Linked DNA regions of Homo sapiens: regions 1, 3 and 4 are each linked to region 2. Evidence: fine-mapped expression QTL. A gene starts in region 2. Each other region holds a variant in brackets. All regions are shown on one strand. Distances are between the middles of the regions.

Region 1 (4,000 bases), 130 kb before region 2:
TCATCATCACCGACACGTCCTTGTTATCTGGAAAGAGCACGGAAATGCAGCGGCCTCCTTGAGGATCCCGAGTGAGTCTCCCACCATCCCTGCCTTGGCTAAAGCACTGTCCCTGCCATGCTGACCACTGTGCGGGTCCCTCCTGGGCTTTGAGCAGCTCATCTGACTCCTCCCAAGAGCTGTGCATGGTTCTGTGTCTGCAGAGTTGATAGGGGTGCGTGGGCATTCCCATTCCTCTCCCCTGCTTGGCCTGATGTGATGGCCAGGAGGAGGCCAGCGTGGCAGGACACAGCGCCTGCGTGGGGATTGGGTGGCTCTGCCCTGTACATAGCAACCACCCCTGCACCAGTGTCGTCTGATAGCAGGAAGGCCGTGGGAGAATCTGATTGGTTTCAGTGTTTGAACCGGTGTCTTCCTTTGGACCCAATTGGCCATTGGTGCTTACATCCTCACCACAGGCCAGGTTCATTCTGGGCCCCCAGAGGGAGCTGAAACTACCACAGGGCCCTCCCAGGGATGCTGGGCATTCTAGGGGTCCTGGTCAGGGTTGGTGGTGTGTGCCCCAAAGAAGGGTCTGCAGGCACAAAATCCTGTTGAAGATGCTGGGAGGGACCCTCTGGGGTCTCAGTGCCCTCCCCTGGCATTTGTGACAGTTCCAGGTCCTTCATAGCCTGTGAGGGTTGGTGAGATGGAGGCAGAGATGCTGCAGCCCCAGCCTGGGCTGAATTTCATCAGTGCCCTCTGCCTGCCGCATCCTCACACATGGCAGGGGACAGACTGCACTGAGTCCTGGGCTTCCACCTCCTGTCCAACCCCAAGGCAGGAAGGCCAAGGCCCTGCAGAAACCCCTGGCCTACCCCAGCAAGTGGCATGCATGGCTAGGATGGTTTAAAAACTGGTTTCTACAGAGGCTTTTTCTACAACTCTTGTCTTCTCTTTTTTAAAAATAATAACACAGTAAATGAAGAAAAGACACAGAGAAGGATGTGACATGCCTGGGCCATGGAGCACTCTGAGATCTCATCGCGGACACCATTGCCCACACCTCCATCCCGTCCTGCGCAGGCCAACACTCACTGACGTCGAAGGCTGCCTTCAGTGCCTGGATGTCCGTGGCCACACCGGACACGCGGTAGATGCCCACCTCCTCCATGCCTCGGCGCTCGATCTCCTCCACGCACTGGCGCACGATGTAGGGCACCTTGGACCTCTCTCTCCTGCGGGAGGAGGGAATGTTCTCAGTGTCCTAACAGCCCTGCTTGGGCCATAACACAGGAGACCTGCTCCATATCTGCACACCCGGAGGTGGGGTGAGGACGGTGACGAAGGTACCCAGGTCTGGGGCTGCACACAGAGCCTTCTGCATGCCTGTCCTCCCTCTGCAAGCTCTGTCCTCATGGCATGTACTTTCTCAGGAACCTTTCAAGCGGCCAGAACCCCTGCGAATCACACATGACCTTTGCGGGAAGGTCAGGAGGCCTGTCTATGTCAAGTCAGCACGGGAAGGGCATCTGACAGATTCCAGGCCTGGGGTTAGCAGCCTGTACCCCCGGCTGGGAGGTCAGACCCGGTGTTGGTCCTGCCACCCACGTGCTGTGTGAGAGGAGAATCCCTGACCCCTGCCCTGGGCCTGGGCCTTAACACACATCCGACGAATGAATGAAGGGTTGCCTCAGCACCGGTGCTCCAAGTCCTGCGATGCTAAGTGCTTTTCTCCTCTGAGTCTTAGCAATGGACAATTCCAATACCTCCACACAGGACACTAGAGTAAGAATCCTTCACAGTTAGAACGCAGTGCTGTGCGGAGGCCTTAACTTGAGTTCTGTTTTGCACCTGGATTTACCAGCACATCAAAGCTGCTTCGCAAGCCCCCTCATTAGCAGGGCTTAT[C/G]TGGGGGAGCTGCTGATGGAGTCCTCGCTGCTCATGCCCACAGCCCTCCCAGAGTGCTATGCGAGTGGCTGCCGTGCAGTTGGGGGTGGGGCGTGGTGTTTAGACACAGATAGGAGTCCAGGGTATGACTGATGGAGGCCCCGGCCCACGTGACCAGCAAGGTCAGAGGCCCAGCCAGATTCCATCCTGGGGAAGCAAATGAATTCTCAGAGGAAGTGGTCTATGTCTGCATGAACTGCTCTCAAACCAAACAGGCTTCTCTTGGCAACTGACTCGTGACAAAGGGGCAGGGGTTACGGCCATTCAACAGGAATCTGGGACCGTGATAAATTCCAAGCAAGGGCAGAAAACCCTGCACTTGGGCAGTTCCTGGAGCCAGCCTACTGCTTCCAAGCCAGGTGGCAAGGACATTCCTGAGCTGGTTTGCAGGAAACACAGGAGGTAGCTGAAGACGCCGTGTTCCCTGGGGCCTGACCTCACCGTGCAGTGGCCACGCACAGAGAGGAGAGACCCACACATGCTCTTTTCTGCAGAAACAGCTGAAGGGACAGGCACCCTCAGTGCGTGAGCCCAAGCCCCTCCCCACTCACTTGGTGACCACAGCAATCTTGACTCCGAAGACCCCTGTCTGTTTTCGGGACGGCATCCTCTTCAAGCTGAACTCCCTGCTGTTGAACTTGACCGAGAGCTTTACTTCGATCTACAGTAGGGAGAAGGGGCACAGTCCTCTAATCCTTCTGGTCCTCATAGCCCAAGGTCCCAAGGACCCCTGGGAGTCTCATCAAATATTTCCACCCCCAAGGCATGCAGAGGTCTCAGCATGAGGTGGAGCCGCCCCTCGGGGAAGCCCCTAGTCTACTTCAGCAAGAGCCAGGATTGTTGAAGATGATGTAAACGACTGGTTTCTGCAGAAGCACCTCCTAAAATCCCCGCTGCTTCTCTTGCTTGCTTGCTTTTTTTTAGATATAGGAGCTTGCAATGTTGCCCAGGCTGTAATCGAACTCTTGGGTTCCAGTGATTCTCCTGCCTCAGACTCCAGAGTAGCTGAGACTATAGGTGCACTGTGCCTGGCTTTCTCTTTCTTAGTAACAATTAAAAATTAAGTAGGAAAGACAGAATAATGTAAGAAAAAGCCAAGAATCTCAAATATTAACATTTTACCATTTATACCCGGGCCTTTTTGGGTGTGTCATTGCTTTTAAGGTCTAAACCTTTCTGGGGTACCTAAAGACAAATCAGGGGTCTCCATTTCTATGGGCAGCCCCCAGGTCCCTGAGTGGAGGCCCCACCTGTCCTGGTGGTGCCATGAGACCTTTGTTTGAGGAGGGATGCTCAGGGCCTGGCTGGCAACTGCATTCCAGCCAATGAATGACGATTCCCGTGCATGGTGATTCTGCTCTTGGGGGCCCTCCCTTCTCCAACCAGGCTCCCTCTCAGATGCTGCCTCAGGCTCAGCCACCTCTGACTGATTTGAAATGAACAGAGGCCACCCTATCCTTCTGGGGGAAGTGGGCACCAGGAGAGTCCCACGGACACGTACCCCATTCATGGCGATGACGGTGCGCTGCCAGTCTCTGTCCTGCAGGGCCTGCGGGTCCAGCTGAAAGGAAGGAGTCATGATTGGCAGAGGCCCTGGGGTCTGTTCAGAGGCCCCACGGGGCAGCAGCCCACACCCGCCACTTCCCCAACCCTTAGTCAGAGGCAGAGCCCGACTGCGGCCAGCACCTCCATCCAGAGGCCAACAGAGGTAGAGTAAGGAGGGGCCTGCCAGACACCCCTGGAACCCAGGGCCCCACTGCTCCCAGAGCCCTGCTGCCTGGGGTCCCCACCCCCTCCTCCCTCTGCCCCGCCCAGTTGGGAGCTGATGTGCAGGCTGGCAGGCTCTCTCCATCCGGCTTCCATCACCACGGGTGCTATGTGGAGCTCAGTGAAAGGTGAGCTGTCCAGCAGCAACTTCAGTAACAACTCCTGGGGGCCTGGCATCCACAGCTGCTGTCTGGGGAATTGTGGACACTGTTCTCCCCCTGCACCATGAACAGCTTGTGGCGGGAGGAGCCTGCAGGCCACACCAGTCCCATGGTTCAGAATCAGGCCCAGAAGGACCCAGAAA
Region 2 (8,236 bases):
GAGCACATAGCAAGGAGGTTACTGCCTGAAGCATCTTCCTTCAACTCACAAGCTGTACTTCACAAACACATTGCTCTAGAACCAAAGGAACAAACCACCTCCCATCCCTCACAAGACCATCCTCAACCCAATTCCATTCCAAACACTAACAGTATGCATTCAGGAAGGAGGAGGGGATGGAGTTTGTTCGGGTGCAGGATCCGCGTGAACCACAAGTGCACCTGATACACTCAAAACTATCCACTCCTCCCTCCCAACTTCTGTTTTGTATCCCCTACTCGTCTATGGTTTTCCTCCCCCGTGCAGGTGTGCCCACGCACGTGGCGTGAGGAACTCACCTGCGTCTCCATGGAAGGCGCCCTCGCCATCGTTGGGCCAGATCTGCCCGGTCTTGCGGACGCCCACGATGGTGGCCTCGGACACGACAACCGGGCAGTGCCGGTGCCGCTTATGGCACTGCGGCGTGGGGGGACTGCTGCTGTCGAAGGACTGTTGCGAGTTCTGCGAGGGAGAGCGGCTTTTGTCCCGGAACATGCGGTAGGTGGTGGGGCTTGGGGACACGCGGCTGGACTGGCCAGAGGAGAAGTCCTCCTCGCTGGAGGTGAGGTTCTCATTGGAGCTGCAGTCCGGGGTATAGCCGCCTCCGCAATCCTCAAAACTCCGGGGGGAGTAGGACCTGCGGGGCCAGGTAAGGCGCTTCTCCTGCTCAGAGGTGCTCTGGCTGCGCAGGAGCGGGCCCTTGCCCTCCCCTTCCATCATGCCCCCGACGTAGATGCTCTGGTAGGGCTGGTACTCCAGGGGCGGCCAAGGGGGCCTGCTACCGCCATTGGCGTCGATCAGGTTGTCCTTCAGGAAGCGGGGGTTCAACTCGGCGTCCTCGTAGTCGCCGTCGACGCCGCAGCTGCTCTCCGAGGAGCGTCCCCGGTAAGGGGGCCTGGATGCATCCCCCACGCTCGAGCCCGCGCCGTGCTGGGACTTTTTGCGCTCCATCTGCATGGCCTGGCTGCCCAGGGAGCTGATGCGGTCCGACACCTCTTTGTCGTTGACCTTCACCAGGCCGCGCTCGTGGTGAAACTCGACGTTCACGTAGAAGGGCTTCTCGGCGTCCGCCCCGGGCTGGCCATGGCCCTTGCGGATCCGCTCGAAGTTGGACCTGAGCGCCGCCACGCTGGCGGGGGGTCCCCGGTCGTCCCGTTCCCCCGACGCGGCTGCCCCGGGCCTGCGGGCGGTCCCGGGCCTGGCCTTACCCGGAGAACCCTCGCCGTCGGGCCGGGCCTCGGGCTCCTCGGCGGGCGGCGGGTCGGCTCCGTCGGCGGGCGCTGGCTGCGGGCGCGACGCGGACGCTCGGGGCTCGGAGGCGCCGTCGGGGGCCTGCGCCGCGCGCCGGAAGCCCCATCGCTGCCGGTCATAGCTCTTCTTTTCCTTGGCCAGCAACGTCTGCAGGTAGATCATGCGGAAGCGCTCCTGGTTCACCTCCTGCTCCAGGCGCCGAATGGAGGCCTTGCAGCGCTCCAGCTCCTGCTCGATGTCGCCCACTGAGCGCAGCTCCATGCGCGGGGGCTCTGAGTCCGGGAACTGCGCCTTCCACGCCTCCGCGAAGCCCACCGGGTCCACCATGGCGCGGCCGGCCTTACCTGCGCCGCCGGGCTGCGCGCGGGGCCCGTCTCAGCGGCGGCGCGGCGCCTCGCCAGCCCGGCCCCGGGCGCCGGGCGGCCCCCATGGCCCGCGCGGCGGCGGCGGCGGCGAACAATGCCCGCCCACTCCCTGGTGGCAGGTGAGGCGGAGCGGGGCGCTCGGCGCGCGGGGCGGGGCGCGCCGGGGGGAAGGGCGCGGGCTGCGCGCGCCGCTATTGTGTGCGGGGCTCCTCCGCACGGCGAGGCGCGGGCGCTGCTCTCCGCTCCGCCAGGCCGCCGCCAGACTCTGGCCACGGCCCGCGCGCTCCTCGCCTCTCGCTTCCGCACCGCCCCACAGCCCCGCCGCCGCCGTGCCGCCGCCGCCGCCGCCGCCTCCTCGGACGCTAAGCTCAGCCAGCCGGCTCTCGCCGCACTCCCGCCCGGCCCGCACTCTGCGCCGCAGGAAGGGGAGGGCCGGGGGGAGGTGGCCGCGGCGCGGATGACGGAGCCAGGCGGGCCTCTTAAAGGGGCCGCGCCGTGGGCACAGGGCGGGGGGGCCCCCTGGAGGCGGCTCCCCCATCGAGCCGCCACCCTCCCCCCGTCCCTGTGCCTTTTGGGAAACTGAGGCCCTAACAACAGCGAATTGGACTGTGCAACTCGCAGCCCAGGGGTCCCCCGTAAAAAAGACACCGGACTCCCTGGTCCATAAAGACCTTTCCAATACAGAGGTCTGGGCCAGTTCTGCAGTCCTGGAACAGGAACACTTGGCTCCCCTCCGGCCAGGAGGACTTCTCCGGCCAGTCCAGCCGCGTGTCCCCAAGCCCCACCACCTACCTCATGTTCCGGGACAAGAGCTGCTCTCTCTGGCAGAACTCGCAGCAGTCCTCCGACAGAAGCAACCTCCCCCCTCTGCCCCTACCACGCCGCAGTGCCATAAGCGTCACCGGCACTGCCCAGTCGTCGTGTCAGAGGCCACCATCGTGGGCATCTGCAAGACCAGGCAGATCTGGCCCAACGATGCGGAGGGCACCTTCCATGGAGACGCAGGTAAGTTCCTCACACCTCACAGCCTGGCCTCTCACCAGCCTCAGGGCTGGGCACACTAGGGACCACCCAGCAGGGCCCAACTCACAGAGAGGCCAGGACCAGGCAGGTCACCCCGCAAGGCAGGGAGGGCCAGGCTGAGTAACCAATGCCAGCACCCTTGTTTCAGCGGGCCTCTCACGTTGTGGATCTGCTGTGGGTGGCTGCCACACGGGTTTGTCACAGCAGGACCACATGATGGATGATAAATAGGGATTTCTCCCTCAGGTCACTCAATACCCACACCTGCCTTCCTGTGTGCTGAGCCATGTGTTTGTCCCCTGGCCTCTCTTGAGCTCCAGAGGTCAATGTAGTTTTTCCAGGACGACCTGACTCAGAACTTCCCTGATTAGCCTCCCTCTAAGGGGGCGGCCAACCTGCACTGAGGTTCACAGGGCTGGGTGGAAGACAGCCCAGAGCAGGGAGTGAAACAAAACCTTTGATGGTTCTCTGGGGACACAGAGATCTGAGACACAGTGGAGAGCACTCTGCAGGGACTCTGATGGGCACAAACTGAAAATACCCAAACCAGCCCGCTGGGTTGGGGGAAAAGGAAACAGGATTTGGCAAATGAATTACTGGGCTTGAGTCCTGACCACCTCTCCCTCTCTGCCTCAGTTTCCTTGAAGTGAGAAGCACATCTGCCTCCAAGTGCTGTTGTCCCTGTGTGGATGTTAGGGATTATCATGCCCTCCTCCCAATGCCAGCGTCATCTGGAGCAGATACTTTGAAGTCCAATCTAAAGGACTGAGCCCAGGCTAGTAGCCAGGCCAGCCCTGCTTGGGTTCAGGGCTTCCTGCCGACTCCTGGCTGTGTGACCTCAGCAGTGTCTCTCTCAGCCTCTCTGAGCCTCAGTTTTGTCATCTGTTCTTCATGTGCCCAATCCTGCTTCCTTTTCCCCTGACCCGGCAGGCTGGTTTGGGTATTTTAATTTTGTGCTCATCAGACTCCCTGCTCTTTGCCCTGTCTCAGATTTCCAGGCTTCCCTAGAGAACCATCAAAGATTTTGTTTCACTCCCTGCTCTGAGCTGTCCTGTCTTCCACCCAGTCCTGTGGGCCACGGTACAAAATGTTGAGAGCATCCTGCATAAAATGCCCAGATGGGGCAAACATAAAACACAACCTGATAAATGGTGTGTAGGGGTCGATTTCGTGATTGCCTGTTAATATTAGTGCCCCTGGAGAACATTCCTGCCCTGGAAAACCCATGGGCCCCAGTTTCTAGGCTGGGTGGGCGGTGCGCAGCTCACTGCTGCCCTCTGCAGGCCTTGCTAACCTCCTGCCATCCTGGTCCCTTGGACCCAGCGGACCTTCTCATCCCCTTCCCATCAGGCTGCAAATAGCCCATTTTGCATGTGAGGAAACTGAGATGCAAATGATGCCCTGGCCACTAAAGGGGCTGGAATCCCAGTAGTGCCATACTGAGCAGTGCTCTCATCCTCAGTGGCCTATTTTTTTTTTTTTTTGAGACGGAGTCTCACACTGTTGCCCAGGCTGGAGTGCAGTGGAGTGATCTCTGCTCACCGCAACCTCTGCCTCCTGGGTTCAAGTGATTCTGCTGCCTCAGCCTCCCAAGTAGCTGGAATTACAGGCGCCTGCCATCACGCCCAGCTAGTTTTTTGTATTTTTAGTAGAGACGGGGTTTCACTGTGTTGGCCAGGCTGGTCTTGAACTCCTGACCTCGTGATCTGCCCGCCTTGGCCTCCTGTAGTGCTGGAATTACAGGTGTGAGCCACTGCACCCAGCCCTCAATGGCCTCTTCTTTAAAATGGGTATGATAAAGGCAGGCACAGTGGCCCATGCCTGTAATCCTGGTGTTTTGGGAGGCCGAGGCAGGAGTATCGCTTGAGCCCAGGAGTTCAAGACCAGCCTGGGCAACATAGTGAGACTCCATCTCTACAAAAAAATTTAAAAATTAGCCTGGCATGGTGCCTCGTGCCTGTAGTTCTACCTGCTCAGGAGGCTGGGGTGGGAGGATTGCACTGAGCCTGGGAATTTGAGGCTTCAGTGAGCTAGGATCACGCCACTGCACTCCAGCCTGGGTAACAGAGCAAGACCCTGTCTCTAAGTAAACTCTGAAGCTGTTTAGTTTGAGTTTGCATGCTCTGTTCTCTTGGCATAGCAAATGGCTTTTTGTTAGGCACAAGGACACGTCCAGATAGTGGCTTTCTCCCTTGTGGGACAGCCTCTTCTGGCCCCAAGGACACTGTTCTCTCCTCAGGACTTCCCTGAAAGCACCCCTATCCTGAGCCTCTGGGCCTTTCCTGTAGAGTTTTCTTATCATCCATCCCTCCCTAGGGAGGAATGCAGCAGGGCATGGGCATGGGCATGGGGTTTAGACACACATAACACTCTGTAATCCCCCACTCAGTGTCTGTTCCAACTAGATCTAAACTCTGCAAGGTCACAGACCTGTTTGTCTTGTTCCCCTATGTCTCTCATATAGTGAGCTCAGAGTAAGTGCTCAACCAGGTCTGGTGGAATGAGGAACCAGATGTGTGCATGGCCTGGAGGGCAGATAGGTCACCGAGAGCGATGCCTGTGTATGGGGGAGGAAGTGATAAGGCATTCACAGCCCGGCTATAGCAAAGGTGTGTGTGTCCTGTGGGAGAAGGCACAGTTCGGGGAAAGGCTTGCCAGGGGAGGTGATGCCTGAGCTGGTCCTAAGGACAAGGACCAGGTAGGCAAAGGACAAGGAGGCTTCAAAGTTCTGTTTGAGGAGCAGCCAGGTTGGGAGATGAGGCTGGTGTAGGCAGTAGGAAGTGGGATCAGAGGTGAGGCAGGGCCTTGTAGGCCTGCACAAAGTTTGGGTTTTATTCTAAATGCAAGGAAAAGCTGCTCAAAGGTTCTAGACCTGCACTGTCCGATAGAACTTGCCAGTACCATGGGCATGTTCTGTAATCTGTGCTGCACAATGTGGCAGCCACGAGCTGCCCCGTGTGATTACTGAGCATCTGAAACGTGGCTGGGGCAGCTGAAGAACTGAATGTTTGGTTTCGTGTTAGTGAGTTTCAATGGCCACCGTGGCTGCTGTACTCAACCGCACAGGAAGCGGGGTGACTTGCTGGGGTCTGTTGCATGGAAGGTTGGGCGTGGGAGGTGGGAGTAGGGGGAGTGGTTGGGGATTGTGGCAATTGTTTATGAGGAAGGCATTGGTGACCCAGAATAGGGCAGAAGCAAGGTACCCCAGAGAAGGGGTTAGAATTCAGGAGCATTCTGGAAGTAAAACTCATGGGACTTGTAGATGGAGTGGGTGTGGGGAATGAGGGATGTTGGGGTGATCAGACCCAACACCAGGCCGTGGGGGCGACAAAGTCTGGCGGAGTCAAAGGAGTGAGAAAAGGCAAGAGAGAAAGTGGGACCAGGGGGCCAACGCTAGTATAGAGGCTGCAAAGGCCTCTAGCCCTAGGAGCCTATGCTATTTATTGGTGATCAAACAAAGAAACAGGTGGTGAGGATGTGGGGATTGAAAGGAAGCGGTGTATCAAGCAAATGAGCTACAGCTGTGACAGTTTAGCATTTTCTTTGAAACATATGGCTACTTGAGATAATGAGAGTGCTAGAAGGAAGGAGCCAGCAAGTCTAGCAGACATGCAAGCCCTGCCTCAGCTTCTCTCCCCACACCCAGCTTTTCCCCAACAGAGGGAGGCCAGCTCATGGGGATGACTTTGGGATGGTGACTGCAACAGGCAAGCAGAGGTGCCTGCACAGGGCTTCAGGTCCGCATAGCCCATCCATGAGCAGGCATCAGGCAGAGGGTGACCCTGTTGCACCAAGGAGCAATGAAGACCTCAGAGAGAAAGTGGAGTGTTGCCAGTGAATCGATGTTGTTTGTTGCCACGGGGCTGGAGACTCTCCCCCTGCCTGCGTGAGGCTGGGTGGAGAAGGGACAGTTACTGGACTAGGGGGGAAGTAGAGGCAGAGGGACTGAGAAGGGACTGGCCAGGGAGATGATGGGGACCCTGGAGTCTGAGCGGAGAAGACTCAGTGAAGAAGGCAGAGCCTCATGCTGATAGCTGCTGTTCCCTCAGTGGGAAGGATGCTAGCTGAGTCTGGCATCATGAGGCCGGCAGGGCAGAGGTGGGCCCTGGAACTTGGCTGCAGAAGCTGGAGGCTGGATGGGCCCTGAGCGCTACCCCAGGAGCCTTCTGAGGGGTTCAGCAGGAGGAGGGGGCTTCACCAAGGGCTCCACAGCTGTCTATGAGCAGTGGGTGACATTTATTTTCTAAATCATCATGCTTTTCTAAATTCTTCATAATAAAACGCCTATCTATGGCTCACGCCTGTAATCCCAGCACTTTGGGAGGCTAGGCGGGCGGGTCACTTGAGGTCAGGAGTTTAAGATCAGACTGGCCAATATGGTGAAACCCTGTCTCTACCAAAAATATAAAAATTAGCTGGGCATGGTGACTCCAGAGGCGGAGGCTGGAGAATTGCTTGGATCCAGTAGGCGGAGGTTGCAGTGAGGGGAGATTACGCCACTGCACTCCAGCCTGGGTGATGGAGTGAGACTCTGTCTCAAGAAAAAACAAACAAACAAGCCAACCCACCTATCTTTTGTAATTTAAAAAAAAATAGATTTTTTGCCAAGTGCCGTGGCTGACGCCTGTAATCCCAGCACTTTGGGAGGCCGAGGCGGGCAGATCATGAGGTCAGGATATCGAGACCATTCTGGCTAACACGGTGAAACCCCGACTCTACTAAAAATACAAAAACAAATTAGCCGGGTGTGGTGGTGGGCGTCTGTAGTCCCAGCTACTCGGAGGCTGAGGCAGGAGAATGGCGTGAACCCAGGAGGCGGAGCTTGTAGTGAGCCAAGATTGCGTCACTGCACTCCAGCCTGGGTGACAGAGCGAGACTCTGTCTGAAAAAAAAAAAAAATTTTTTTTTTACAATCTTTTTTTCTTTTTTTTTGAGACGGAGTTTTGCTCTTGTTGCCCAGGCTGCAGTGCAATGGCGTGATCTCAGCTCACCACAACCTCCGCTTCCCGGTTCAAGCAATTCTCCTGCCTCAGCCTCCCGAGTAGCTGGGATTACAGGCATGCACCACCATTCCTGGCTAATTTTGTATTTTTAGTAGAAACGGGGTTTCTCCATGTTGGTCAGGCTGGTTGCGAACTCCCAACCTCAGGGGATCCACCTGCCTCAGCCTCCCAAAGTACTGGGATTACAGGCGTGAGCCACCACACTCAGCTTTTTTTTTTTTTACAACTTTATTGAAGTATAATTGAAGTGTCATAAACTGCGCATAAGGAGTGCGATTTGATGAGTGTTGACATCTGTGTATACTTTGAAGCCATCGCCACAATTAGATAACAAGTATTTCCAGCATCCCCAATCCATATTATGTTTTTAAATCTCGAAACTAAAATATAACAGAGAAGTGGGGTTTTTGGTGATGTTCCCCCTCAATTTCCCTTGTTCTCTGAGTGTGGTTACATGATTCTATTATTTATTTATTTACTTATATATTTTTTGAGATGGGGGTCTCGCTCTGTGACCCATGCTGGAGTGCATTATTGCAATCCTAGCTCACTGCA
Region 3 (4,000 bases), 23 kb before region 2:
TCTCTACAAAAAGAAAAAAAACGACAGATGAGTGTAGTGATGTGCATCTGTAGTCCCAGCTACTCAGGAGGCTGAGGTGGGAGGATCACAGGAGGTCAAGGCTGCAGTGAGCTCTTACTGCACCAGTGCAGATGCAGAGTGAGATGGCAGAGCGAGATCCTGTTTCAAAAACAAACAAAAAAAAAACCCCACAAAAAAATTCACTGAATGTAATTAATGCCACTGAACTGTACATTTAAAAATGGTTAAAATGACCCAAGTGCCCATCAATGAATGATAGATTAAATATATATATATATACACACACACACACACACACACACACAAACAATTGAATTATTACTCAAGCTTAAAAAGGAAGGGGTTCTGAAACACAGTAAAACACAGATGAACTTTGAGGACATGATGTGAAATAAGTCACAAAAAGACAAATACTGCATGATTCCACTTAAATAAAGTTTCTAGAGTCGTCAGATTCCTAGAGATAGAAAGTAGAATGGTGGTTACAGGGACTGGGCGTGGGGGAAGAAGCACTGTTCTTTAATGGGTGGAAATGAGTACAGATTTTCAGTTTTGCAAGGTGGAAAGAGTTCTGGAGATGGATGATAGTGATGGGTGCATGACAGGAATATACTTAACACCATTTAGCTGTGCGGCTAAAAATGGTAAATTTTATGTTATTTTACCATAATTTTAATTTTTAGTGGTTAAAATGTCAAATTTGTATATATATTTCACCATAATTTTTAAAAAGTAATAATGTAATATACCAAAACCCATTAAATTGGCTGCTTTAAAGGGTTGAATTGTATGGTACATGAATTACCTCAGTGAAGCTATTTAAAAAAAGAGAGAGAAGTTCACTGAAACATTATACTAACCAGCTGCATAAAGAACCACTCGAAATGTCCAACAAAAATTCATTAAAATTAGATAAATTAAACCATAACTCCACTACAAAGTAATAATATGGCCCTTAAAAATAATATTTACACAAGATTTACTAATACATGGAAACGTTCACATTAACTAAGGCCGGACACCCAACTACACAGCAACATCTTAACTATATAAAAAAGATTTACACATAATTATCTCAAAAGTTGGCAAGAAAATTAAACCTTCCTCATACTGCACAGGAACCTTCCCCATGACTCTTCATCTGCTCCCCTCTTGAGATGCCAGCCTTTCAAAACCTGCAGCCAATGTCCACGGACTCCCAGAAACCGAAGGGTCTGAACCCTGAGGGCTAGAGTCAAGTCACCCAGGGAGCTTTTCAAAAAACCCAGACTTGGCCGGGCGCGGTGGCTCACACCTGTAATCCCAGCACTTTGGGAGGCCGAGGAGGGCGGATCACAAGGTCAGGAGATCGAGACCATCCTGGCTAACATGGTGAAACCACCTCTACTAAAAATACAAAAAATTAGCCGGGCATGGTGGTGGGTGCCTGTAGTCCCAGCTACTCAGGAGGCGGAGGCAGGAGAATGGCATGAACCCAGGAGGCGGAGCTTGCAGTGAGCCAAGATCGCCCCACTGCACTCCAGCCTGGG[G/C]AACAGAGCAAGACTCCGTCTCAAAAACGAAAAAACAAAAAAACCAGATTCACTGAGAAGAGAAAAGCAAACAGCTGTGTGTGAACTGCCTATGAACAGGGTGGGCTCTAGAAGGGGCCTCCAGCCAATGCCAGCAAGGAAATGGGGACTCAGTCCTACAACTGCCAGGAGGTAAGCACTGCCAGCAACCCAGGTGAGCTTAGAAGAGAACCCCAAGCCCCAGCAGGGAATGCAGCCCCGGCCAACACCTCAACTGCAGCCTGAGGAGACCCCAAGCAGAGGAGCCAGCTCTGCTGTGCCCAGAAACTGTGACATCAAAAAACAAACTCATTAATCAGACCAGCTGCGCACGTGTGTGACTTTTTAACTACATGGGCAGCCAGAGTAGGGACCTGCTGCCCTTGGCCTCTGCCAGACTAAATGTTCCATTTCCTGTAACCACTCTGTTCTTTGGGCTTAGCAGCACCAAGCACTAGGAGACTACGGCTTCTCAGGCCTAGACCCGTCCACCAGCACCAGGCAAAACTTGGGCTCCTAATGTACCAGCCTGCTGACTGGCAGAAGTCCTGGTGAAGTGAAAACATCCCCAACCTTTTTTCCAAATGAACAGCCCAGCCCAGCCTTTGAAAAGCCCCCTTGGCCAGGCATGGTGGCTCATGCCTGGAGTCCCAGCACTTTGGGAGGCCAAGGCGGGTGGATCGCTTGAGCCCAGGAGTTTGAGACTGGCACGGGCAACATGAAGACACCTCATCTCTACAAAAAAATACAAAAATTAGCTGGGCATGGTGGCATGTGCCTGCCGTCCCAGCTACTCAGAAGGCTGAGGTGGGAGAATCGCCTGAGCCTGGAGAGGTCAAGGCTGCGGTGAGCCATGATCGCACCACTGCACTCCAGCCTGGGCGACAGAGTGAGACCTTGTTTCAAAAAAAATTTTTTTTTAATTAAAAAAAAGTTAAAGTCCTCTTGTAGCCTGGGCAACATAGTGAAACCTTGTCTCTACAAAAAATTTAAAAATTACCTGGGGGGATGGTGGTGCATGCCTGTAGTCCCAGCTACTTGAGATGCTGAGATGAGGGGACTGTTTGAGCCCAGGAGGTTGAGGCTGCAGTGAGTTGTGAGTGTGCCACTGCACCAGCCTGGGCAGCGGAGTAAGACCCTGTCTCTAAATAAATAAATAAAAAGCCCGCTTTGAGCTTCAAACCAAAACAGCTCTGAAAAAAGTGCAGTCAGGGACAGACCACCAGACCTAAGCCACCGGCTCTGGTCCACCCTGGATGTCTGAGCCCACACGGTGACATCTACATATCTGAGGATGTTCCCTAGGAGGAAGTCCTGCTCCAGCCTTTGATGTCCAAGGTCTCGTCAGTATCATGCCCTGTCATATGCCTTGTCTTGCTTTTTTTTTTTTTTTGAGACGCAGTCTTGCTCTGTCACCCAGGCTGGAGTGCAGTGGTGGATCTTGGCTCACTGCAAGCTCTGCCTCCCGAGTTCATGCCATTCTCATGCCTCAGCCTCCTGAGTGGCTGGGACTACAGGCGCCCGCCACCACGCCCGGCTAATTTTTTTTTTGTATTTTTAGTAGAGACGGGGTTTCACTGTGTTAGCCAGGATGGTCTCTTGACCTCATGATCTGCCCGCCTTGGCCTCCCAAAGTGCTGGGATTACAGGCGTGAGCCATCGCGCCTGGCCCCGCCTTGTCTTAAAATTCAATAAAGTGACCCTCCTCCCTTGGGAATGACTCCAATTAATTCACAGACTTGAAAGCAGGGAGAAAGGAGAGACAAAGAAGAAAACATCCATTTTCCCCTCTCCTTTCAGATCTATCCCCTGCACTCATGGGGACAAAGGAGACAGGGCACCCCAGTCCTACCAATACCTTCCCCTGCATCCCAACAGCTGACTGCAATAGTTTCCACCCATGGTATTAGGCGGCAGACCCCTAGCTGGCTTTCTGGGGGCGCAGCTGCCCAGCCCAAAGCAGCAGACGCTTCCACAAGAAGCCTCAAGCTTCCTGAGGAGTGAAAACAAAGCACCTCTCCCAGCCCGCCAGCCCATCCCCATCAACCTTCCCAGACTTCCTTGCCAGAGTTTCTGGAACCTGAGACTGTGGCCTTAGCAGGATAAATAAGCAACCGCGGGGCTCACAAGGGCCGGGGAAGCCAGGAGATGACACAGGCATGGCGGGACCCAGTCTCCGATGCTTCCTCAGACATTCCTTTCTAGAGCCTTCCTGGCTCTTGCACAGAGAAGAGAAGAGTCTTCTGGAGCCACTCACACCATCTGGCCACTAAAGAAATGCCATGAGAGAGGAAACCAGACTTATGTTAATAATCACAACCTGCATTTGTTAGGGCCAAATTCTTTTTTTTTTTTTTGAGACGGAGTTTCGTTCTTGTCGCCTTGGCTGGCGTGCAATGGTGTGATCTTGGCTTACTGCAACCTCTGCCTCC
Region 4 (8,292 bases), 140 kb before region 2:
GGAACATTAATTTAATCAGAGGAAAACAAGGGACATGGAAAGGGCAAGGAAATAAGAAAATGAGCTGAGTTTTGAAGGCAATGATCAGATGAAGTGAGAGAAGAATATTCCAGCAGAGGGAGACAAGGAGACTGCAGAGATTTCAAGGGGCCAAGAGCTGTTCGGTGCAGCTCAGTGAAGCACCTAAACAGAGGTGGGGGAAGGAGAACAGGGGTCAAAGCCCAGTATTGAAGTGTTCTGGATACCAAGCTAAGGAGACCTTATTACGAAGGTACTGGGGTTGCTGAAGGGTTTAAATGGGAGAGTGATTGTGAACAGATTAATAGTTTGGAAAGATACAGGCAGAAGTAAACCTCTGGATTTAACCAAAAAATAAAGGACAGAACCACAATGAAGATGTTGGAAAAGATCAGGAAAAACACTGTTAAAAGATATTCACTCTCGGGGCCGGGCGCTGTGGCTCACGCCTTAAATCCCGGCACTTTGGTAGGCCGAGGCGGGCTGATCACGAGGTCAGGAGATCGAGACCATCCTGGCTAACACGGTCAAACCCCGTCTCTACTAAAAATACAAAAAATTAGCAGGGTGTGGTGGCGGGCGCCTGTAGTCCCAACTACTCCAGAGGCTGAGGCAGGAGAATGGCGTGAACCCGGTAGGCGGAGCTTGCGGTGAGCCGAGATCAGGCCACTGGAATCCAGCCTGGGCGACAGAGGGAGACTCCATCTCAAAAACAAACAAACAAAAAGAAGATATTCACTCTCTTATTTACGGATTTTCTTTATGGAGTTACCAAATTATCCTTTGAAAATTGAGAATTCAGAAGTGGCTGAGAGCAGTCAGTCACTCTTCAGAATGTAAAAACTACTATTCTGAAGTAGATATTACATTATTAATTTCCTTTCAAGATGCTTTAAAAATGAGCCTTTTGATACACCGCAGGTTTTTAAAGAGTATGTCACAATAACTAAATCTTACTTGAAATTAACAGAAGAAGAGCACTATAAATTTTAAAGGCTTCACAGACACAGGGATCATCTGTTATGTTCACTTTGGAACAGATCATAATTGTCCCTCCTCCTCAACATACCCAAAATACGTTGTTTAAGGCTACTTTCTTAATGGTCATGTTATTTCACAGCAAAAGACTGGGGTCACAATGATATCTGAGCTGACAGAAAACCCCATGGGGGTTTTTACCTCGCAGCTAGTCTATTCAGTACTAACAATTCCAACCACCAGAAGGAATTTCCCTGCCTAGGCTTATTTTGTTGGCACAACACAAAAAAATCTCCTGGGGCCGAGTGAGGGGGTTTGTGCCTGTAATCCCAGCACTTTGGGGGTTGAGGCGGGCGGATCATCTGAGGTCGGGAGTTCCAGACCATCCTGACCAACATGGAGAAACACTGTCTCTACTAAAAATACAGAATTAGCCAGGAGTGGTGGCACATGCCTGTAATCCAGCTACCTGGGAGGCTGAGGCAGGAGAATCGCTTGAACCTGGGAGGCAGAGGTTGCGGTGAGCCGAGATCATGCCATTAGACTCCAGCCTGGGCAACAAGAGCGAAACTCTGTCTCAAAATAAAATATCTCCTGACATTTTATATCTAATAAGAAAAGATCTATTTAACAATGATCAGAATAGGAACATCTTTAATACCAGGCAAACTTAAAAGCTTTCTCAGTGGATTTCTCAGTAGACTGTGACAAATGACCTCAAAATAAACTCATATTTACTCTTAAGAAATAATTTGTATTTGAATCTTCTTAACAACAAAAGCCCCAGGAACTTTTTCCTGAACTCCCAAACAATAGCAGCAAAACGAGATTCTCGGCTCTCTTTATTTTTACAAATCACAATAAGATAACTAACCTTGTATTTGCTATTATTTACATTTACTGTATATCACCATTTACTATCACCATCATTTCATAAAAGATGCTTTATTTTAACACCAAGAAAGCAGGACTTTTTTTTTTTTTTTTTAGAAAGGATAGTCCTTTAATCGAACAAATTTAATTGTATAAAAGACTCCCAATATTGTCCTTTTTTTTTCTTATTTCTGTTCCCTTACTGAGCTGAGCAGTTTGCATAATACCACACACAAGTTAGTCATGTGATTTAAATATGTATATGATAGTAATTTTGATACTATCACTTAAGTCATTCGAAATATCAGATGCACTGTGTGTCAAGTCAGTTATAGAGAACCACTGCTTCAGAGAAATCACATCTGAGGAGGAAACACTGCAGATACACCCCCTAAAAGTTCACCTTTGAAACAGAAATTTTGATACAAACTTCACTTTAACTACAACTGTAATTGTAATTATTACAGTTATTCTCCACTCACTAGATACTGTACTTGACACTCACGTTATTTGGTTGGCTACCAACGTGCACCTGTGATAAAGCTTTCCTATGGCACAACATTCACTTTCTTACTGAAAATGTCAAGAAAACCCCTACACACCTGCAACCATTAGGAAGCATTCTCCAGCTATCAAAAAAGTCACTGAATCGGCTAAGCGACTCTGTGTGGTATACACTAAATCAAAGGGGAAAAGGTGTTTTTTTGGAGGAAAAAAATACTGGATCAGCCATTTATTCATAGAAACAATTTTACCCACAACAATACTTCTCCTTTCACTATATACCCTTCTATATTGGTTTGGTTATTGTATAACATACATGTATATTGTTATGGCTGGGGATTTTTTTTTCTTTTTTGAGACGGAGTCTCATTCTGTCGCCCAGGCTGGAGTGCAGTGGCAAGACCTCAGTTCACTGCACCCTCCGCCTCCTAAGTGATTCTCCTGCCTTGGCCTCCCGAGCCTCTGGGATCACAAGCGTGTGCCACCATGCCTGGCTAATTTTTATATTTTTTGTAGAGACCGGGTTTCACCATGTTGTTATTGAACTCCTGACCTCAGGTGATCTGCCCTTCTCGGCCTCCCAAACTACTGAGATTACAGGCGGGAGCCACTGAGCTCGACCTTGTTATGTCTGGTTTTTGTTTTGTTTTTTTGAGATGGAGTCTTGCTCTGTCACCCAGGATGGAGTACAGTGGCACGATCTTGGCTCACTGCAACCTCTGCCTCCCGGGTTCAAGCAATTCTCCTGCCTCACCCACCTCAGTAGCTGGGATTACAGGCACGCGCCAATATGCCCAGCTAATTTTTGTATTTTTAGTAGAGACAGGATTTTACCATGTCGGTCAGGCTGGTCTCAAACTCCTGACTTCAGGTGATCCACCCACCCTGGCCTCCCAAAGTGCCAGGATTACAGGCATGAGCCACCGCGCCCAGCCTAGTTTTTAATTACTAAGAAAAAATTACTATAGTCCTTTTGGTATCACCTACATTGCCAAAGCTGCAGTCCCCCTCCACTCCCGGAAGCCACCAGAAATGACTGCTGTTGTCTGCAAAGCCCACAACTCTGATTTCATCTCAAGATATGTCCTACTGGGTGACTGCAAATGTCATTCTTTAAAGGCTTGTATCTGTTACAAGCTTGGGAAATATTATCAATGGCTTAAGAGGCTCTTTTGACAAAAGAAAACACTGTTCCCTGTAACCCCAGCTAGTCAGGAGGCTGAGGCAGGAGAATCGCTTGAACCCAGGGGGCGGAGGTTGCAGTGAGACGAGATCATGGCCCTGCACTCCAGCCTGGGCGACAGAGTGAGACTCGTCTCAAAAAAAAAAAAAAAAAAAGGAAGAATGTGCCCAACCTTCATGTCATGAAGGCCATGCAGTCTTTCAAGTCCCGAGGCTACTACATGAAGGAACAGTTTGCCTGGAGTCATGTCTGCTGGTACCTTACCAATGAGGATATCCAGTATCTCCGTGATTACCTTCATCTGCCCCTGGAGATTGTGCCTGCCACCCTACGCCGCAGCCGTCCATGGACTGGCAGGCCTCAGTCTAAAGGTCTGGAGGGTGAGCGACCTGCAAGACTCAACGAGAGGGGAAGCCGACAGAGATACCTACAGAGGGAATGCTATGCCCCCTGGTGCCAACAAGAAAGCCGAGGCTGCGGCTGGGTCAGCAACCGAATTCCAGTTTAGAGGCAGATTTGGTCGTGGACGCCGTCAGCCACCTCAGTAAAATTGGAGAAGATTATTTTGCATTGAATAAACTTACAGCCAAAAAGACTTAAAAAAAAAGAAAAAAATTATATTATGTCGCAAATGAACCCGTTGCAATGATCATACAGGTTTTTTCCTTTGATAGTTTGTACTACTTTAATAGTTTTTTCTTTTATTACATCATCTTAGTTTCCTAGGAAAACCCCAACTTGGTCATGATACATGTTTAATCCATTGCTGGATTATTTGCTAATATTTTATTTAGCATTTTTGCATATATGTCCATAAGAAGTTAGTCTATACTTTTGCCTGCTTGTACTATTTATGTCTGGTTTGGTTTTAAGCTTATATTAAATTCACAATGAGTTGGGGAGAATTCCATTTGCTTCTTTTTCTGTAAGGTTATGTAGGCCGGGGTCGTGTGTGGTGGCTTATGTCTGTAATCCCAGCACTTTGGGAGGCCAAGGCGGGCGAATCACGAGGACAGGGGTCGAGACCACCCTGGCTAACACGGTGAAACCCCGTCTCTACTGAAAATACAAAAAATTAGCCAGGTGTGGTGGCGGGCGCCTGTAGTCTCAGCTACTCGGGAGGCTGAGGCAGCAGAATGGCCTGAACTCGGGAGGCGGAGCTTGCAGTGAGCCGAGATCGCGCCACTGCACTCCAGCCTGGACGACAGAGCGAGACTCCGTCTCAAAAAAAAAAAAAAAAATTATGTAGGCCGCGCACTGTGGGTCGTGCTTGTAATCCTAGCACATTGGGAGGCCGAGGCAGGTGGATTACCTGAGGTCAGGTGTCCGAGAACACCCTGGCTAACATGGTGAAAC[C/T]CCGTCTCTACTAAAAATACAAAAGATTAGCCAGGCACACCTGTAATCCTAGCTACTGTGGAGGCTGAGGGAGGAGAACCGCTTGAACCTGGGAGGCGGAGTTTGCGGTGAGCAGAGATCATGCCACTGCACTCCAGTCTGGGCTACAGAGCGAGACTTCCTCTCAAAAATAAATAAATAAATAAATTATTTTAAAAAAATTCTGTAGAAGATAAAGACTTTCTGTTCTTCTTAATGTTTGCTGAACTTATCTATAAAATCATCTGGGCCAGGTGCTTTTCTTTGGTTTTGTTTTTTGTGAGATTTTTGACTGGATGGGATACAGATTTTAAAATAAACATTCAATTCCTTTAATGGTTCTAGATCTAGACAAGGTTTTCTGTTTCTTCCTACTTCGTTTTTATGAAGTTATATTTTTCTTTTGAGCCGGAGTTTCTCTGTTGTCCAGGCTAGACTGCAGTCACCCCATCTTGGCTCACTGCAACCTCCGCCTCCCAGGTTCAAGTGATTCTCCCGCCTCAGGCTCCCGAGTAGCTGGGACTACAGGCAAACGTCAAAACGCCCGGCTAATTTTTGTATTTTTAGTAGAGATGGAGTTTTGCCATATTGGTCAGGCTGGTCTCGAACTCCTGACCTCAGGTGATCGACCTGTCTTAGCCTCCCAAAGTGCTAGGATTACAGGTGTACATTTATTTATTTGAGATGGAATCTTGCTCTGTATTTATTAATTTATTTATTTGAGATGGAGTCTTGCTCCATCGCCCAGGCTAGAGTGCAGTGGTGTAATCTTGGCTCACTGCACCCTCTGCCTTCCAGGTTCAAGCGATTCTCCTGCCTCAGTGTCCCAAGTAGCTGGGATTACAGGTGCCTGCCACCACAGCTGGCTAATTTTTGTATTTTTAGTAGAGACAGTGTTTCACCATCTTGGCCAGGCTCGTCTCGGGCTCCTGACCTCATGAACCACCTGCCTCAGCCTCCCAAAGTGTTGGGATTACAGGCCTAAGGCACATGCTCGGCCGTATTTATTTATTTAATTATTTAGAGACAAAGTCTTGCTCTGTCACCCAGGCTGGAGTGCAGTGGCGCCATCTCAGCTCACTGCAGCCTCCGCCTCCGAGGTTTAAGCGATTCTCATGCCTCAGCCTCCTGAGTAACTGGGACTACAGGTACTCACCACCACGCAGGGATATTTTTTTCTGTTTTTTTGTAGAGACACGGTTTCACCATGTTGGCCAGGCTGGTCTCGAACTCCTGACCTTAGGTGATCTGACAGCCTCGTCCTCTCAAAGTACTGGGATTACAGGCATGAGCCACTGCGCCCGGCCTCTCACTACGTTTAAGTGATGCCATGGCTCATGCCTGTAATCCTAGCACTTTGGGAGGCCAAGGCAGGTGGATCACCTGAGGTCAGGAGTTCGACACGAGCCTGGCCAACATGAGGAAACCCCGTCTCTAGTAAAAATACAAAAATTAGTCAGGCGTGGTGGTACAAGCCTGTAGGCCCAGCTACTTGGAAGGCTGAGGCAGGAGAATCACTTTAACCGGGAGGCAGAGGTTGCAGTGAGCCAATATCATTCCACTGCACTCCAGCTTGGGTGACAGAGTGAGACACCGTCTCAAAAAAAAAAGAAAAAAAGAAAGAAAAAAATGTGATGCCGGGGCATCTCAGCCTCAATACCTGCATGAGCACAGTCATGTCCAGGCCAGGGCTGCTGGTCGAGGTCTGGCCCCATCTCTTCTAGAAGAAAGGGAGTAAGCTTGCAGGGAGGCTGGGGGACAAGATCCCAGGATCTCAGCCTCCGCTCATGGATCAGCTCTGAGACCCTGACTGAGCTGGGGGTGCTCTGTGTGCACTGGTTTCCCCAGCTGTCAAGTAAAGGGATTGGATGAGGAAGTCTTGTCAAGGTGGAATGATCTCAGATTTGGGGCAGCAGTGAATGATCCCGCTCCCTGGGCCCATGCCAGTGGCCTGGCCTCGGCTGAACACAGCCCCAACACTCTGGAATGGGGATGAGGGGGAAGTCAGCTCTTGCTCTTAGTAAGAGAGATGCAATAGGGCTCTGTGGCTGAGCTGGGTGCCTTGCCTCACACCTGTAATCCCAACCTTTGAGAGGCTGAGGCGGGAGGATTGCTTGAGGCTGGGAATTTTGAGAATAGCCTGGACAACATAGCCAGACCCCATGTCTACAAAATAATAAGAAAACACACAGCTATAGTCCAAGCTACTTGGCAGGCTGAGGCAGGAAGGTCCCTTGTGTCCGGGAATTGGAGGCTGCATTGAGCTATAATCGCACCACTGCACTCCAGCTTGGGTGACAAAGTGAGACCCTGTCTCTAAAAGAAAAAAATATCGGCCTGTGAGCATGGGTTTGATCTTCAAACAGGACCCGGAGGGTAGGGACAGACAGTGCTGTCACCCTTAGGTGCTGAACACTCAGAAACGGGCCAGCGGCAGTCCTTTCCTCACCTGCAGACACCAGATTGGGCAGAACAGCACGTGGCACTTGCAGCTCTTGCAGTGAGGGCAGAACCCAGTGTCAACCCTTCTGCCTGTGGGAGGGGCTGCTGAGGCCTGCGGAGAGGCCAGGGTGGAGGCTCGTCCCCTTGTCCAGCCCTTGGCGTGGTCTCCACCAGGTCCCCAGTCCACCAGTGCAGGGCTCCCCTGAGCCTGCTGCTGCCACGGGCCCTGTCTCTACCCAGGACGTCCCCCCACCCTCGCAGTGTCAGGGAAATGATCATGGTGGCGGTGACACTCCGCAGGCAGGGCTGCTGAGAGAAGCTGAGAAGGGTCACACTGCAGGCAGGCGCCCGTGTGACAAGCCCCTCTCACCCCGAGAGAGCTGACCAGGCAGCTCACGAGCAGAGCCACATCCCGGGAGTCCGAGAAAGGTCCTGGCTGGGCTCAGCCACCTCACTGGCCACGGGCAGCCTTTGTCGTGTGAGCCTTGCTCTCCTGGGGAGGCTCAGGCTGACAGCTGTGGGCATTGCCGAGGGTAACCTGTGGCCCAGTGTATATGGCCGGCTCTCCTCAAGCTGCATTCATTCAAGTAGGACCCAGGGTGCATGCCCATCTCCAGCCCAGGGCAGCTCCCCTGTAAGCTGGGTGAGCTACTGAAGCCAAGGCGGGAGGCAGCTGACAACACCCACGGCCCATGCGGAGGTGGTGGAAAGGCTGGACTCAGCAGCAACACCAAATCCCGGACCAGGCAGAAACCACCCAAGACTGAGGGGCTCGTGCCAGAGCGGTGGCCACAGGTAAGAACCCGGGCCCAGGGTGGCAGGAATCCTCCATGTCCCAGGGCTTAGCATAGCAAAGGAAGACCAGCCGGGTCACCCTGGTGGCCATCTGTCCCTGTCCCACCTGCAGAGTCAGAACAGCC

Which allele goes with the higher level. Positions count from the first base shown, and alleles are read on the strand shown. Sizes are in standard deviations (SD) of each study's normalised expression. Not every link is listed here.
In carriers of allele G in region 1, the expression in monocytes of the gene that starts at base 2,069 in region 2 tends to be higher than with C alone (large effect, 1.2 SD a copy in Fairfax 2014).

The links. PIP is the estimated chance that this variant, and not a neighbour inherited with it, causes the effect.
Region 1: its variant is the best candidate, but not a certain one, in a credible set for the expression of BCR in monocytes (Fairfax 2014, PIP 0.76).
Region 3: its variant is the best candidate, but not a certain one, in a credible set for the expression of BCR in whole blood (INTERVAL, PIP 0.62).
Region 4: its variant is the best candidate, but not a certain one, in a credible set for the expression of BCR in whole blood (INTERVAL, PIP 0.72).

What each region holds. Positions count from the first base shown.
Region 1 is chr22:23,308,914-23,312,913 of GRCh38, reverse strand. BCR (BCR activator of RhoGEF and GTPase) reads right to left here. Exons shown (of 23, transcript NM_004327.4): 17 at 3,431-3,490; 18 at 2,481-2,590; 19 at 1,078-1,217; 20 at 1-27. It also overlaps the pseudogene POM121L11P. Among named protein-coding and RNA genes, the nearest start is that of LINC02556, 16 kb to the left of the region's middle. The variant C/G (reference allele first, on the strand shown) is at 1,891.
Region 2 is chr22:23,174,342-23,182,577 of GRCh38, reverse strand. It overlaps BCR (BCR activator of RhoGEF and GTPase), which reads right to left and starts at 2,069. Exons shown (of 23, transcript NM_004327.4): 1 at 339-2,069. The coding sequence starts at 1,617. It also overlaps a transcript of RSPH14 not described here and the pseudogene BCRP8. RefSeq lists silencers at 1,539-1,618, 1,639-1,908, 1,979-2,218, 5,623-5,722 and enhancers at 2,339-3,149, 6,110-6,209.
Region 3 is chr22:23,199,048-23,203,047 of GRCh38, reverse strand. All of the region lies in intron 1 of BCR (BCR activator of RhoGEF and GTPase), which reads right to left. Among named protein-coding and RNA genes, the nearest start is that of BCR, 21 kb to the right of the region's middle. RefSeq lists a silencer at 1,531-1,707 and an enhancer at 3,135-4,000. The variant G/C (reference allele first, on the strand shown) is at 1,551.
Region 4 is chr22:23,318,349-23,326,640 of GRCh38, reverse strand. It overlaps LINC02556 (long intergenic non-protein coding RNA 2556), which reads right to left and starts at 25. Exons shown (of 2, transcript NR_149133.1): 1 at 1-25. It also overlaps the pseudogene POM121L11P and the pseudogene RPS10P30. The variant C/T (reference allele first, on the strand shown) is at 4,913.